Linked DNA regions of Homo sapiens: region 1 is linked to region 2. Evidence: fine-mapped expression QTL. Tissue or cell type: ileum. Region 2 holds a variant in brackets; the other region holds the start of a gene. All regions are shown on one strand. Distances are from middle to middle.

The links. PIP is the estimated chance that this variant, and not a neighbour inherited with it, causes the effect.
Region 1: ARSL starts here. The variant in region 2 is fine-mapped to the expression of ARSL in ileum (GTEx, PIP above 0.99).

The regions. Positions count from the first base shown.
Region 1 is chrX:2,960,119-2,968,227 of GRCh38, reverse strand. ARSL (arylsulfatase L) reads left to right here and starts at 3,887. Exons shown (of 11, transcript NM_000047.3): 1 at 3,887-4,004; 2 at 7,808-7,850. The coding sequence starts at 7,828. RefSeq lists enhancers at 2,189-2,248, 3,579-4,402, 6,053-6,878, 6,879-7,702.
Region 2 is chrX:3,793,099-3,801,207 of GRCh38, reverse strand. No RefSeq gene overlaps it. Among named protein-coding and RNA genes, the nearest start is that of TRI-GAT1-1, 41 kb to the left of the region's middle. The variant C/T (reference allele first, on the strand shown) is at 3,770.

The sequences.
Region 1 (8,109 bases), 830 kb after region 2:
CAGGAAGAAGACGTTTCTTCCAAGGAGCAGCCTCCCCGCTACATCCAGCCAGTGTCGCCCTTACACAGCTGCATGTCAGGTAACTGGCCTTCCTGGGGCTTCTTCTTACAGGCCGGCTTTTGCACGTGCAGAGACGCTCCAGGGGATATTCTTTTATGCTAAACTGCGTCTTTTCAAACAAGTCCCTGTCAATGTTTTAAAAGTAATTTGCTTTCAAAAAATAATAATAATCATCAGTGAAAATCTCAAGTACAGATTTTACATGGGAGATTTCCAAACGTAATGCGTAAAAAAAAAGCAACGAGGGAAGATGCACCAAATGGGAGACATTGCATCCACACTAGATTCTTATCTTAGAGATGCTGAAGGCACGTGCACTGAACATCGAAGAGACACCGGAGGTGAAAAGCGAAACTGGGTTTGGGAACAGGGCCCAGGCGAAGCGTTGAACACAGGCTCGCAGCCCGGGGCTGAAGCTCAGGGCGGGAAAGGAGGGCTGGGATTCCTTCTCCCCGGAAGAGAATCAAAGGCTATATTGTCAGTCTTGCATGGGTGTTTCCTCGTCTGCTTCTTTTATCTTTATTTCTATTGCATTGTATTATATTTTACTGTATTCTATATTTTATTATTTTGTTTTATTTTAAATTCAGACAGGATCTTGCCGTGTTGTCCAGGCTGGTCTCAAACTCCTGGCCTCAAGTGATCTTCCCATCTCGGCCTCCCAAAGGCCAGAGTGTGCCAGCTGGGATTACAAGTGTGAGCCACCGCGCCCAGCCTCTTGTCTCTTTCTAAAGATACCTTGTGTCTTTAGAATAAAAAAGTAGAAAGTTTTATTCAGTAGTAAAAATTAAATCTGGACCAAAATGTTTAACATTCCAAGGGTTAAAGTGCAGAGTTCTTTGGAAAAGAAAAATCTGCTTTTATTGTGTCACTAAATACATAAATACATCAGTTCAGAGGTAGGCCACAGACTTGATATCTAACCGTACGTCATATGACTGTTCAAACATGTTTGAGGGTCCTATATTTAGACACCAATATAACCAGCCCGATAAAACAAACACAACCAGTCATGTTCCCCAGGCAAGTCAGAAGCAGCCCATAATATGCTTTTTCCTTGAAAAATCATGTACATATATATGTTATATGCATATATGTACTTGTTTTATATGTATATATGTACTATACATACACACATAAACATTTTTACTTTAAAAAGTACATATATTAACGTTACATGTATATACGTACATGTTTTATAGGTATATATGTTATGTATACATATATGTATGTATATATACATGCATGTACATGTATACATTATATACATATAAGCATACATATATGAACACATAAACATGTATGTAGATGTCTATAGGTACATGTTTATATGTTATATGTTTATATTTATACGTGCATATTATAACATGTATTTATATGTAGATGTGTACGTATATGTACATGTTTTATGTATCTATACATATATGTACATATATATTTTAAAGTATATATTATTTTTGTAAAGAAAAGCATGCATATTTTAATAAAGAAAAATTATGCTTTATTATATATTTATATATTATATTTATATATTTTATTGTTTTGTTTTTTTTTTCTAGAGATAGGCTCTCACTTTGTTGCTCAGACTTAACTTGAACTCCTGGGCTCAAGCAATCCTCCCACCTCGGCCTCCCTAAGTGCTGGGATTATAGGCGTGAGCCACCACACCCAGCCTTATTTACATATTTTATGTGATACATTTATACTATGTATGATGTACAAAAGTTATACTATATTATATATAATAATTATGAATATATAAATTAAAATATAGGTGAAAATATTCCTTTAGGCCCCCTACGAGGAAATGACTTAAGATTTGTTGCCAAAAATCACAAAGTGAAAGCAATTACCATTAGGGCACACACCTGTGGCAGGAAAAGAAAACATTTCTGACACCCCTCCTAATACTCGTTTTGAGACATGCCACCAAAACCGTCCACTTGTAAAAATGAGTCAGGCTGGAGTGTGCCAGCGTGTCAGCTCCTCATCCCAGAAGTAGGGTGGTTTCCACCCCCACATAAGGAGGAAGTGAGATCAGGTAGGCTATGTGACTTCTCACAGACCCAGCATGTGGCTGCATATGAAGTTGCGAAGAGACAGCAGGTGGAACTCTATGAAACCCCGTCCTTGTAGGTCAAGGATGGTTGAATAATAGGGACCATTGCGTAGGGTTCCATTCTACAGAGTAACTTCCCAGCAATGATCATGCAGTGCCTCAGAAACTGCTTCCTGCCCTCTTGGTCTTGTCTTGTCTTTTCTTTTTTGAGACGGAGTCTCACTCTGCCGCCCAGGCTGGAGTGCAGCGGCACAGTCTCGGCTCACTGCAAGCTCCGTCTCCCGGGTTCAAGCGATTCTCCTATCTCAGCCTCCCAAGTAGCTGGGATTACAGGTGCACGCCACCACATCCAGCTAATTTTTGTATTTTTAGTACAGACGGGGTTTTGCCATGTTGGCCAGGCTAGTCTCAAACACCTGACCTCAGGTGATCAGCCCACCTCAGCCTCCCAAAGCGCTGGGATTACAGGCGTGAGCCACCGTGCCCAGCCCGTCTTTTCTATGTTTTTAAACCAAGCATTGCTTGAAAATAATCCTTTTTTTACTTTTTTTTTTGCTTATTTTTTTTCTTTTTATCTTATGTTTATTATTATTATTACTATAATTTTTGAGACAGAGTCTCTCTCCGTTGCTGAGGCTGGAGTACAATGCTGCGATCTTGCCTCACTGTAACCTCCGACTCCGGGGTTCAAGCAATTTTCTTGCCTCAGCCTCCCGAGTAGCTGGGATTACAGGCATGTGACACCATGCCTGGCTAATTTTTCTATTTTTAGCAGAGACAGGGTTTCACCATGTTGGCCAGGCTAGTCTCGAGCTCTTGGGTTCAAGTGATCGGCCCACCTCGTCCTCCCAAAGTGCTGGAATTACAGGCATGAGCCACTGCGCCTGGCCTTTTTACTTCTTTTGTTTGTTTGTTTATTTACTTTAAGAAATGTTTTCTTTTTTATTTTTATCTTATCTTTATTATTTCTTATTTACTTCATTTACCACTCAACAAATAACTTCTTTAAAACATTTTTTTTTGAGGCAGGGTCTTGCTCTGTCACTCAGGCTGGAGTGAAACTGCAGCTTCAACCTCCCAGGCTCAAACAATCTTTCCACCTCAGCCTCCTGAGTAGCTGGCAGTAGAGACACATGCCACCATGCCTGGCTAATTGTTTTATTATTTATAGAGACAGGGTCTTGCTATGATGCCCGGGCTGGTCTCGAAGTCCTGGGCTCAAGCGATCTTCCTGCCTCAACCTCCCCAAGTGCTAGGATTATGGGCATAAGCCACACTGCCCAGCCTAATATTTTTTATTTTTGAAGAGACAGCATCTCACTTTGCTGCCCAGGCTGCTCTGAAACTCCTGGCCTCAAGCAATCTTCCTGCCTCGTCCTCCCAAAGCGCTGGGATTACAGGCATGAGCCACCATGCCAGGTTGGATATGATCATATTATAGCCAGCACCCTGTGTAACAGCACAGGCAATCACTTAAAAACCTAAGGACACTGGCAGAATACGGTGACTCACATCTGTAATCCCAGCACTTCGGGAGGCCAAGGAGGGCAGATCACTGGAGCTCAGGACTTTGAGACCAGCCTAGGCCACATGGCAAAACCCCGTCTCTACAAAAAATAAAACAAAATAAAAACCTAAGGAAACTGACCACTGGTTTGGTAGACGTGGGCGTGGCTTTGAGATTCCCCCATGCTGCGATGTGGGGGGAGTCTGCTCTGTCTGTCCTAACTCTCTCTGATCTTCTGACTTGGGAAAAACAAACTCGAAGTTAATCATTCCCAGCTCAAAGCCTTGTGCAAGTGCTCTCTGCCTTCACGCTTGCTTCCTTTGGGAGAGAACCTTCCTCTTCTTGATCGGGGATTCAGGAAGGAGCCCAGGAGCAGAGGTGAGTCCTGTGAATGTTCATTTGTGCTGGATTTGGGCTCCGTGACCAGGCATGAATAGCGTGGTGAACAAAGAGCTCCCCGTTCCCTTTTCTGTCTCTGAATAATTGCCCAGTTTGTTTTGATAAAGCAGAAACGTACCCGTGACTTACAGGCCTAGGAATGCAGCTCTTTCCTGGAGAAGGGGGATCTGTTTTCTAATCTGCAGGAGAGGCCTTGGGCAGGCCCCATGCTCTGGGTCACCTCAATGTCACAGTTTCCAAAATTAAACTCATTCAAGGCTGTTATCACCATCTCTTTATTTATTTAACGTTTTTCTCCAAGAAAAAATATTCATATTTTTACTTATAAATACATAACATTGCGGGAGAAAGAAAAATTAGGTCGGGCACGGTGGCTCACGTCTGTAATCCCAGCACTTTGGGAGGTCGAGGCGGGTGGATTGCTTGAGCCCAGGAGTTTGAGACCAGCCTGAGCAAAAGAGGAAACCCCACCTCTACTTAAAAAAAAAAAAATCAATAGCCAGGCATAGTGGCATGTGCCTGTAGTTTCAGCTACTTGGGAGGCTGAGGTAGGAGGATCGCTTGAGCCCAAGAATTTGAGGCTGCAGTGAACTATGGTCGCACCATTGCTCTCCAGCCTGGGTGAAACAGCCAGACCCTATCTCAAAAAAAAAAAAAAAAAAAAAAAAAGGAAAAGAAAAGAAAAATTAGAAAAAGAGCACTTTTCCTAAATCTCCACACCCAGAGATAAACCACTGCTGGGCAGGATTGCTGCAAAAACCATCTTCCCCTAGTTTGTGGTGGTTTGGGGTTTTCTCATTACATTTGTACAGTATTTTGCTTTTATTCCGTTTTCTGACCATTGGCAGCATGTCATTGTAGGTCAGAAAGCAATGCTGAGGGTATTAAAATGCTCATTTTGGTTTTCTCTCCATGTACAATTTTAAATCAATCTCTTTCCCGGTGAAGATGCTATTAGGTTGGTGAAACGTAATTGCGTCTTTTGCTATTACTTTTAGAATATGAGAATTGTGTGTGCTCTCTAGGGTAAAACAAACGAACAAATAAACAAAAAAACCTCACGAGCACGGCGTACACCTTATCCCTTCCTTCTGTGTTCTAAACAAAGCACAAATGATATCTAAGGTCTTTTTCTCTTCGACAGACAGAAAATTATTGGAGATGTAGCAATTCAGTGTTAGACATCCATCAATAATGTAAGAAGTGCATTGATTCGGTCTGGAAAGGCCGGAAAACTTGAAGCAAAGGCAGGAAGACTGTAAGCAGGGAGGGGGCTTCCAGGTCACAGATAGGTGAGAGAGGAACAGTTGCCTTCTTTTGAGTTTCTGATGAGCCTTTCCAAAGGAGGCAATCAGATACGCATCTATCTCAGTGAGCAAAGGGGGGACTTTGACTAGAATGGGAGGCAGAGGCCCTAAGCAGTTCCCCGCTTGACTTTTCCCTTTAGCTTATTGACTTGCGGGCCTTGAGATTTATTTTCCTTTCACAAAGCTCATTGTCTTTCTCAGAAGACTGGTTTTGTGCCTGAATCCTGCTAGGAGCAAACACCCCTCCCAGCATCCCCGAAAAGGCGTTGAGGGGAAATCCCTCAACCAATCGCTTCTCTCCCACTCACACCCTGGGGTTTCGCAGCCCTGCGGACCTTGCCCACCCCTCCTCTCTGCCCTCCCCGCTCCCACACCAGCTGTGTCTATCCTTGGTCAGGTTTCACCTGGACAGACACCACGGCCACTTCTAGGCTCTCAGTGCCTGCTGGCTCCAGTGTGTCCTCACTCACTGGCCGCTCGGCCCTTCTAAAAGTGGCCAGGTCACTCCCCTGGTTACTCAGAGGCAGAAACCCAACACATCTGCATGCTCCTGTCTCTTTATCTTCTATGCATGCCCATGTCCTGTCAACGAAAAGAAGCGAACTCTGTAGAATATTTGAAGAGATTTATTCTGAGCCAAATAAGAGTGACCATGGCCCATGACACAGCCCTCAGGAGGACCCAAGAACGTGTGCCCAAGGTGGTCAGGGTGCAGCTTGTTTTATACATTTTAGGGAGGCATGAGGTGTCAATCAAATACATTTAAGATACACATTGGTTTGGTCCAGAAAGGTGGAACAACTCAAAGTCAGGGGGCTTCCAGCTTATACATAGATTTAAACATTTCCTGGTTGACAATTGGTTGAGTTCATCTAAAGACCTGGGATCCTAGGAGGCTGAGGCAGGAGAATCACTTGAACCCGGGAGGCGGAGCTTGCAGTGAGCCAAGATCGCGCCATTGCACTCCAGCCTGGGCAACAGAGCAAGACTCCGTCTCAAAAAAATAAAAAAGAAAGATTAAAAAAAAAAAAAAAAAACCCTGGGATCCCTAGAAAAGAAATCTTCAGGTTAAGAGAAAAGATTGTGGAGACCAAGGTTATTTTGAAGTCTTGTAGCGGCTGCCCTTAGAGACAATAGATGACAATTGTTTCCTATTCAGACTTTTAAAAGGTGCTAGAGTCTTAGTCAATCTTTTCAGGATTGGAAGGGTCCGGTAGAAAAAGATGTGAATATCTATGTGAATAGAGATTCTTTACATCTTTACAGATGCAAATTTTTCCCCACAAAGGACAGCTTTGCAGGGCCATTTCAAGATATGGCAAAGAAACATGTTTTTGGGTAAAATATTTTGATTTTCTTATTGGTCTCATGTTATGCCAGAGTCAGATTGGAAAGTAAGTCACAATATATAGTTAAATGAAACCCTTCTGATGAGAATTTTTGGTTTGTAGGGCATGACTCTCCAGACCCCTTAGATAGGAATTTGGGCAAGATAAAAAGAAAAATCAGAGCTTCGTCCTCAGTCCCATGCACAAGCCACATGGGGTCAGACCACTGCAGTACCCTGAAGGTGACCTCTTGCTGCCTGCAACTCTAATTGTTATCTTCCATCTCATTCCTTTCCTGCTCTACACCCTGGGCTCTCCCTCACTTCTCGGCGAGACTGAGGGGCCGCCCCTCTGTGCTTTGGGGGTCGCCCGTTTCCCTCTGTGGACAGAACATTTCCAAGTGTGGGCAATGGTCGCCCCCTCTCCCGGCAGCACCTACCCCTAGCAATGAAGGCGAATGCGTCTCTCCTTCATGCAGCACTCAGTGCCTGCAGAGTCCTCTAGGCCTTTTTCCTTCACACTGACACTCCCAGTTCTGTTTTCAAGTCTGGACCTCCTGGGCTCAAGCAAATCCTCCCACTTCCGCCTCCCAAAGTGCTGGGATTCCAGGCATGAGCCACCACGCGCAGCCTCTCATTGTATTTCTGATCTTCATACCCTCTACTCAGATTCTTTTGTGTATCATCCAAGCTTTGATCTTTCCCCGCTTCCCCCTTCCAAATCAGGACTCTCTCTCTGCATTTCTGGACATTAGGAATCACCCCTGCCCTGGGCTCGGGAAGCAGAAGACAAAATAATCTGCTTCCGGACACTGGGATTCTCTCATCACTTTGTGATCACTCATGGGCTATGAAAGCTGATAAAGGGGATGGAGACCCTATGACCACTTTCTTCCTCTTTCTCTGAAGACCATCTGGCTGTGTATTGAAACACGTTTTACATTCTTAACATAGTATTAAACATTTTTGAAGCCTTTTCACTCGGGAAGAGCATTCCTTTATAGATTTTGATCATTGTTTTAAGATATTTTTGCTATTGATATCATGAACGGGAATCAAAGTTCCCCTAATTACTTACTTACTGTTTTATTTATAATCAGGTCAATTTCTGCTGTCAATGTGATTGTGGACATCTTTATGTCTTACAGGAAGTAGAGAGAGAGACAACATGTTACATCTGCACCATTCTTGGTAAGATACAATTATATGCACTCATTAGTAGTCTCCTTTCTTTCTTTCTTTCTTTCTCTTCCTTCCTTCCCTTCTTTCTCTTCTTTTTTTTTTTTTTTTTTTTTTTTTTGAGACGGAGTCTCACTCTGTCGCCCAGGCTGGAGTGCAGTGGCGCGATCTCGGCTCACTGCAAGCTCCGCCTCCCGGGTTCACACCATTCTCCTGCCTCAGCCTCCCGAGTAGCTGGGACTACAGGCGCCTGCCACCACGCCCGGCTAAT
Region 2 (8,109 bases):
GTGCTCACGTCTGCTCACGTAAACTCTCAAACACACATTCACAGCAGCATTATTCATGGTAGCCTAAAGGTGGTAACAACCTCAAATGGCCTGTCAGCAAATGAATGTGTAAACTAAATGTGGTCCATCCATATCATGGAATATTCTTCAGCCCTAAAAAGGACTGAAGCTCTGACACAGGCCACCACATGAGTGAACCTTGAAGGCAATTTGCTAAGTGATGGAAGCCAGTCATAAAACGCTGTGTTCTGTATGATCCCATGTAAAGGATAATTCAAAACAAGGAAGTCTATAAAGATGGAAAGTAGATTTGTGGTTGCTTAGGGATGGGGGCAGGGGGTGTTAAGGTGGTTATAGCTAAAGGGTACAAAGTGTCTTACCAAAGAAATCAAATGCTCGGCTGGGAGCGGTGGCTCACGCCTGTAATCCCAGCACTTCGGGAGGCCTAGGCAGGTGATCACCTGAGATCGGGAGTTCGAGACCAGCCTGGGCAACATGGTGAAATACTGTCTCTACTAAAAATACAAAAATTAGCTGGGTGTGGTGACGCGTGCCTTAATCTCAGCTACCCAGGAGACTGAGGCAGGAGAATCGCTGGAACCCTGGAGGCAGAGACTGCAGTGAGCTGATATCACGCCACTGCGGTCCAGCCTGGCAACAGAGCGAGACTCTGTCTCAAAAAAAAAAAAAAAAAAAAAAAAAAATCAAATGCTCTAAAACTGATAGTGGTGATGGTTGCACAACTCTGAATATACTACGAAACACTGAATTGCATGCATTAAGTGGGTAAATGATATCATATGTAAGCTATATCTCAATAAAGTTGTTAAAAAAATAGTTTCTACCCAAAGGAAAATAAATCATTCTACCAAAAACACACACGGACACATATGTTCATCACAGCACTATTCACAATAGCAAAGACATGGAATCAATCCAGGTGCCCATCCATGGCAGACTGGATAAAGAAAATATGGTACCTCTACACCAAGGAATACTACACAGCCATAAAAAGAACAAAATCATGTCCTTTGCAGTAACATGGATGGAGCTGGAGGCCATCATCCTAAGGAAATTAAGGCAGGAACAGAAAGTCAAATAGCACATCTTCTCATTTACAAGTGGGAGCTAAACATTGAGTACCCATGGACATAAAGATGGGAACAATAGACTCTGGGGACTGCTAGACGGGAGAGGAAGGAAGGGGGACAGCGGATGGAAAGGTACTTACCAGGTACTAGGCTCACTACCTGGGTGACAGGTCCATTAGGAGCCCAAACCTCAGCATCATGCAATATACCCAGGTCAGAAACCTGCACATGTAGCCCTGAGTCTAAAATAAACATGTAAAAAATTAAAAATTAAATAATTTTAATTTAACTTAAATTTTTAAAAAATTGGCCAGGCACAGTGGCTCATGCCTGTAATTCCAGCACTCTGGGAGGCCGAGGTGGGCAGATCACTTGAAGCCAGGAGTTCGAGACCAACCTGGCTAACATGGTAAAACCCTGTCTCTATGAAAAATACAAAAATTAGCCTAACTTGGTGGTACATGCCTATAATCCCAGCTACTCAGGTGGCTGAACGAGGAGAATCTCTTGACCCCGAGAAGTGGAGGTTGCAGTGAGCCAAGATTGCAGCACTGTACTCCAGCCTGGGCAACAGAGTGAGACTCTATCTCAAAAAGTAAAAATAAAAATAAAAAATTAGCTGGACATGGTGGTGTGTGCTTTTCATCCCAGCTACTTGAGACCGTGCCACTGCACTCCAGCCTGGGTGACACAGAGAGACCCTGTCATAAATAAATAAATAAATAAATAAACAAATAAATAAATAAATAAAATTAGAAAGACCCATAAGAGCATTACTCCACCAAAAACCAAAAATACTTCAAATGAAAAATAGCATGTAATTTTACCTAATGTGGAAAAGACAATGATTTGAAATGCATCGAAGTTTTGTTTTAATAAAATAATGATGAAGTAGTGGGTTGAAGATTCAAGGCCAGACTCACACCTGCGTACCTTCTCATCCTCTGAACACAATAAGGACACATTCTCTCCGTTGTATAGCGCCTTTTATAATCCATTGCACACCAAAAACTTTATCATCATTTCCCTGTTGCAGTTTCAATTTCTTCCCAGGTACTTTTCACAGCCCGTCTGTATCTTCTCTTCGTTAAACTTCTTCTTCCTATCTATAGATCTGTTTCACACAGAACTAACATCTGTGACCCAAATGGCACACTGCTATTTATTTAAATCTAAGATCGCAGATCTGGAAGAAATCATGAATAATCTAGTCCAGGTGTCCTGAGTCGTAGGTTAAAAAACATCTCAAGTGGAATCAACCCAAATGACCATCAGTGGATGAAGAAAAACACAACGTGGTCCATCCACACAAGGGAACATGATGCAACCCTAGAGAGGAATGCGGCTCGGAAACAGGTTACAGTGTGGGTGCACCTGAATAACAGCACACTCAGCGAAACGAGTCAGACACAAAAGACCACGTGCTATATGATGCCATTTATATAAAGTGTCCAAAATAGGCAAATCCACAGAGACGGAAAATACATGGCCATTAGAGGCTGGGGAGGCGGAATGGGAAGTGACTGCTAGTGGGTACAGGGTCCCGTTTTGGAAATATGAAAATGTTCTGGAACTAGATAGAGACGTGGTTGTGAACATACTAAATCTCACTGAGCTGTACACTTTAAAATGGTGAATTTTGCCAGGTGCAGCGGCTCTCGCCTGTAATCCCAGCACCTTGGGAGTCCAAGGTGGGTGGATCACCTGAGGTCAGGAGTTCGAGACCAGCTTGACCAACGTGGTGAAACCCCGTCTCTACTGAAAATACAAAAACTAGCCGGACATGGTGGTGGGCGCCTGTAATTCCAGGTACTTGGGAAGCTGAGGCAGGAGAATTGCTTGAACCCAGGAGGCAGAGGTTGCAGTGAGCTGAGATTGCACCACTGCACTCCAGTCTGGGCAACAGAGTGAGACTCTGTCTCAAAAATAAATAAATAATAAAAATAACAAAATGTTGAGTTTTATGTTCTATAAATTTCCTCTCCATAGAGAAAAAATTAGTCTTCTCCTAAGTCTCAAAACCTACGGTGGGCATCACTTCAGTTACCCCAAAAGTTAAGAGCCAGGGCCAGGCACAGTGGCTCATGCATGTAATCCCAGCATTTTGGGAGGCCAAGGTAAAAGGATCACTAGAGCCCAGGGGCTCAAGACAAGTGGGGCAACACAGCACGACCCCAACCTTACAAAAAATAAAAAACTAAGTGGGTATGGTGGAGCACACCTGTGGTCCCAGGAACTCAGGAGGCTAAGCTGGGAGGATCGCTTCAGCCCAGGCAGCCAAGGCTGCAGTGAACCACGATTGCACAACTGCACTCCAGCCTGGGCAACAGAGCAAGACCTCATCTCCAAAAAAAGTTTAATTTAAAAAGAAAGTTAAGAGCAGAGACAATCCTGTCCTCCCCATCCCCACATTGTCCAACACTCAACAGACAAACAGATACCAGTCTTCCTTTATATTTTTTTCTTTTTTGAGACAGAGTCTCACTCTGTTTCCCAGTCTGGAGTGCAGTGGTGCAATCTCAGCTCACTGCAACCGCCGCCTCCTGGGTTCAAGCAATTCTCCTGCTTCAGCCTCCCAAGTAGATGGGATTACAGGCATGTGCCACCACACCCGGCTAATTTTTGTATTTTTAGTAGAGATGGGGTTTCACCATGTTGGCCAGGCTGGTCTCAAGCTC[C/T]TGACCTCAAGTGATGCGCCCACCTTGGCCTCTCAAAGTGCTGGGATGACAGGCCTGAGCCACCGCGCCCAGCCCTTCCTTTATATTTTCGCATGGCTTCATCTTAAAAGATTTATCTGTGCACCTCTTTGGGGAAATTTTTGCAAACAAATATTTCTGTCTGGCCATTGGGAATTTGAAAGATGTTTAAATCTTATTGACTTTACAATCTTTCGTGGGTTTCCTAGAAGACAACATAGAAACCTGATGGACGTAGAAGGGAAGGGTAATATAGAATTAGCAGAAAGTTTGTCAATTAAGATCCATACTTATTTATAAGATAATAACATTGGCCTCATCATGAAAAAAGTGCAGGTAAGTGGCACACCAATTATATCCCAGCTAGAAGTAACAATCAATGGTGTGAAAAGATAATTCTACTTATCATGTGGTCAGAAACACCTGAAAGTACCTCAAGCATATAGAGCTTCCAGTGCTGGGTGACCAGGGGAGAAAACCATGAGTTTTCAAACCTGTCCCAGCACATTCCTGAAGTTTTCACTTACTTTTTTTTTTTTTTTTTTTTTAAGACGAAGTCTAGCTCTGTTGCCCAGGCTGGAGTGCAGTGGTGCTATCTCAGCTCACTGCAAGCTCCGCCTCCCGGGTTCAGGCCATTCACCTGCCTCAGCTTCCCGAGTAGCTGGGACTACAGGCGCCCATCACCACGCCCGGCTAATTTTTTTGGATTTTTAGTAGAGACGGGGTTTCACCGTGTTAGCCAGGATGGTCTCGATCTCCTGACCTCGTGATCCGCCCGCCTCGGCCTCCCAAAGTGCTGGGATTACAGGCATGAGCCACCGTGCCCAGCCAGTTTTCACTTACTTTTTTTTGGTGGGGGCGGGATTGGGGGCAGGGTCTCCGTCTGTTGCCCAGGCTGGAGTGCAGTGGCATGATCATAACTCACTGCAGCCTCAAACACCCAGTCACAAGTAATCCTCCCACCTCCCAGCCTCCCAAGTAGCTGGGACCACAGGCATGCACCACCATACCTGGCTAATTTCAAATTTTTGGTAAAGACAGGGTCTCACTATGTTGTCCAAACTGGTCTCAAACTCCTGGGCTCAAGGAATCCTCTGCCCTCAGCCTCCCAGAGAGCTAAGGTTATGGGCATGAGCCACTGTGCCCCGACTTCCACTTACTTACTTTGGAAACAAGCTGCATCCCACTAGAGAAGTCCCAGCATCTGCAGGTGCTGTATAGGATGACGATGAAGTTCTTCCTACTCCATCAAGACCATCAGCCAAAGGAAAGAGAGCACATTGCTCCAGGCTGGAGTAGGTGTTACAGACTGAACCATGTCCCTTCAAAATTCATATGGGGAAACCCTAACCCTAATGTGGCTGTATTTGGAGATAGAGTCTATCAGCAGATAATAAAGACTCAATGAGCTCATAAGAGTGGGGCCCTCATCCTATAGGACTTGTGTCCTCATAAGAAGATGAAGACAGATCTCTCTCTCTCTCTCTCATTGTGATAAGAACCCTTAATATGAGATTTACCCTCTTAAATACTTAAGTACATAATAGAGTATTGTTAACTATAGGCATGATTCTGTACAGTAGATCAGAGCTTATATGTCTTGCATAACTGAAACTCTGTACCCACTAAACAATTCCCCATTCCTTCTTCTGCCAACCCTGGACAACCACAGTTCCCTCATTCTCTCTCTTTCTCTCTCTTTCCATCTCCACCACCGCCTTTCTGCTTTAGGACAAAGGAAAGGCCATGTGAGGATACAGTGAGAAGGTGGCCATCTGCCAGCCAGGAAAAGAGTCCTCACTAGACCCCAATCTTAACAGCATCCTGTTCTTGGACTTCCGGCCTGCAGAACTGTGAGAAAATAAATTTCTGAGGACTGTGGGACCTAGCAGACTAATATGGTGAGTGTTTGTCCCCAGACAGGAATGCCTGAAGTTGGGACTCTTGGACTCAATAGAGCTGTATACGTCCATTCTCACACTGCTATGAAGACATACGTGAAACTGAGTAATTTATGGAGAAAAGAGGTTTAATTGGCTCACAGCTTCACAGGCTGTACAGGAGGCATGGGTGGGGAGGCCTCAGAAAACTTACAATCATGGTGGAAGGCGAAGGGGAAGCAGGCACAATCTTCACATGCCCAGCAGGAGAGAGCGAGAGTGCACAAAGGGGGAAGTGTCACACATTTTTAAACAACCAGATCTTGTGAGAACTCACTCACTACAAGAACATCAAGGAGGAAATCCGCCCCCATGATCCAATCACCTCCCACCATTCGGAATTACAATTCAACAGGAGATTTGGGTGAGAACACAGAGCCAAACCATATCAAGAGCTAGGTCAGGATCAAGCGTCTGTCTCCTCATTTTATAAGGATAGCAAAAGCATTAGCTGCAAGTTACTGAATTCACATGGTTTAACTGTACAGACTGCACCCAAAGGTTATTTCAGAGACAACACAGATAAGCTTTTTGAGACCAGGTTGTTTCCAAAGGTAAGGGAAGATTGAACTACACACTGTTTGCAAAGCAGCTAACTTATGTATGATACACTATGCACAACTACCGGAAAAGAACATACAGGAAGGTGTTGGAAATGAACTCTGTGGCTCCTCCCCTCTTCCAGATGTGGTTTTAAAAAATGCCCATTTTCTGTTCCTCAAAAAATTAAAAATAAATCTACTGTGACCCAGCAAGCCTACTCGTATTTGTCCAAATGAAATAAAATCAAGATCTCAAATAGACATCTGCACCCCCATGTTCACTGCAGCATCATTCACTATAGCCTGGGCATGGAAACCATCTAAGTGTCCGTGGATGGATGAATGCGTAAAGAAAATGTCATGCATATATACAGTGGAATCCTATTCAGCTTTAAGAAAGAAAGGCAACCAATCATTGGCAACAACACAGATGAACCTGGAGGACATTATGCTAAGCAGAATCTGCCAGGCACAGAAAGACAAATACTGCCATGTCTCACTTATATGCAGAGTATAAACTCATGAAACTCATAGAAGCAGAGGATGAATGGTGGTTGCCAGGTGCTCCGAGGAGGGGCAGTAGGGAGTTGTTCTGTGGGTATAAAGCTTCAGTTATACAAGACGAATAAGTTCTGATCTGCTGTCTACAACACTGCGCCTGTAGTTAATAATACTGTATTCTGTACTACTCAGCCATAAAAAGGAATGAAATAATGGCAATTGCAGCAAGCTGGATGGAATTGGAGACCATTATTCTAAGTGAAGTCATTCAGGGATGGAAAACCAAACATCGTATGCTCTCACTTATAAGCAGAAGCTAAGCTATGAGGATGCAAAGGCATAGGAATGGCATAATGGACTCTGGGACTCAGGGGGAAGGGTGGGAGGGGGGTGGGGGATCAAAGGGGACACACTGGGTACAGTGTATACTGCTCAGATGACGGTGCACCAAAATCTCAGAAATCACCACTAAAGAACTTATACGTGTAACCAAACACCACCTGTTCCCCAAAAACTATTCAAATGTTTTAAAGAGTTAACAAGTAATAATAATACTGTATTGCATACTTAAAAACTTGAGAGGATAAATCTCATGTTAGATATTCTTACTGCAATTTTTTTTAACGTGTCTGTTTCCTGGTTCTATCCAAATCTTCTGATCTGCCACTATCTGACTCTCTGTCACCTAAGAATTTCCTTCAGTGGCCCCCACTAAGACGTCCCGCATCCTACTCAGCCATGGGACACCTGCAGCTTTATTTCAGGTCACACAGGCTAATGTCAGGGAATCCACTACTCTCTGTCAAACCATAGGTACACAGCATTTCTTAAGTCCAAGATGTCTCTATACTTCCACTGGCTTCTCTTGTCATAGTCCAACTCCATGCCATACTGAAGTTTGAGGAGGTTCATTCTTTTGTTTTCCAATTCACTTTAGAAAAAAAATTAAATAAATAAAACACACACTCTAGAATCTCATCCTTTCTCTCCCCAAGAGGTAAAATCTCAGAGCAGGTGCCCTGGGAAACTGCTGGGAAGATTCTAGCCTTGGATGAGGGTTGGAGCATGTGTTCCTAGTGAAAACTTTTAGAATAAAATTGGACCACAGCCACCGGGTATGGGTATAGGAACACATCCAGGTGAGGGGGATAGACAGAGCAGACCAAGATGGGAAGAAGAATTTGTAAATTCCCTCAGCTGTAGGAGTCCTGAGACAGACCCTTTGTATGGGGTGCACCTGGAAACATTCAAGACTTAGTCCAGAGTCCTCCTGACCTGAGAGCCAGGCCCCCCTACCCGAACTTGGAGACACCTCCATAGACAGCCATCAAAGTCTAAA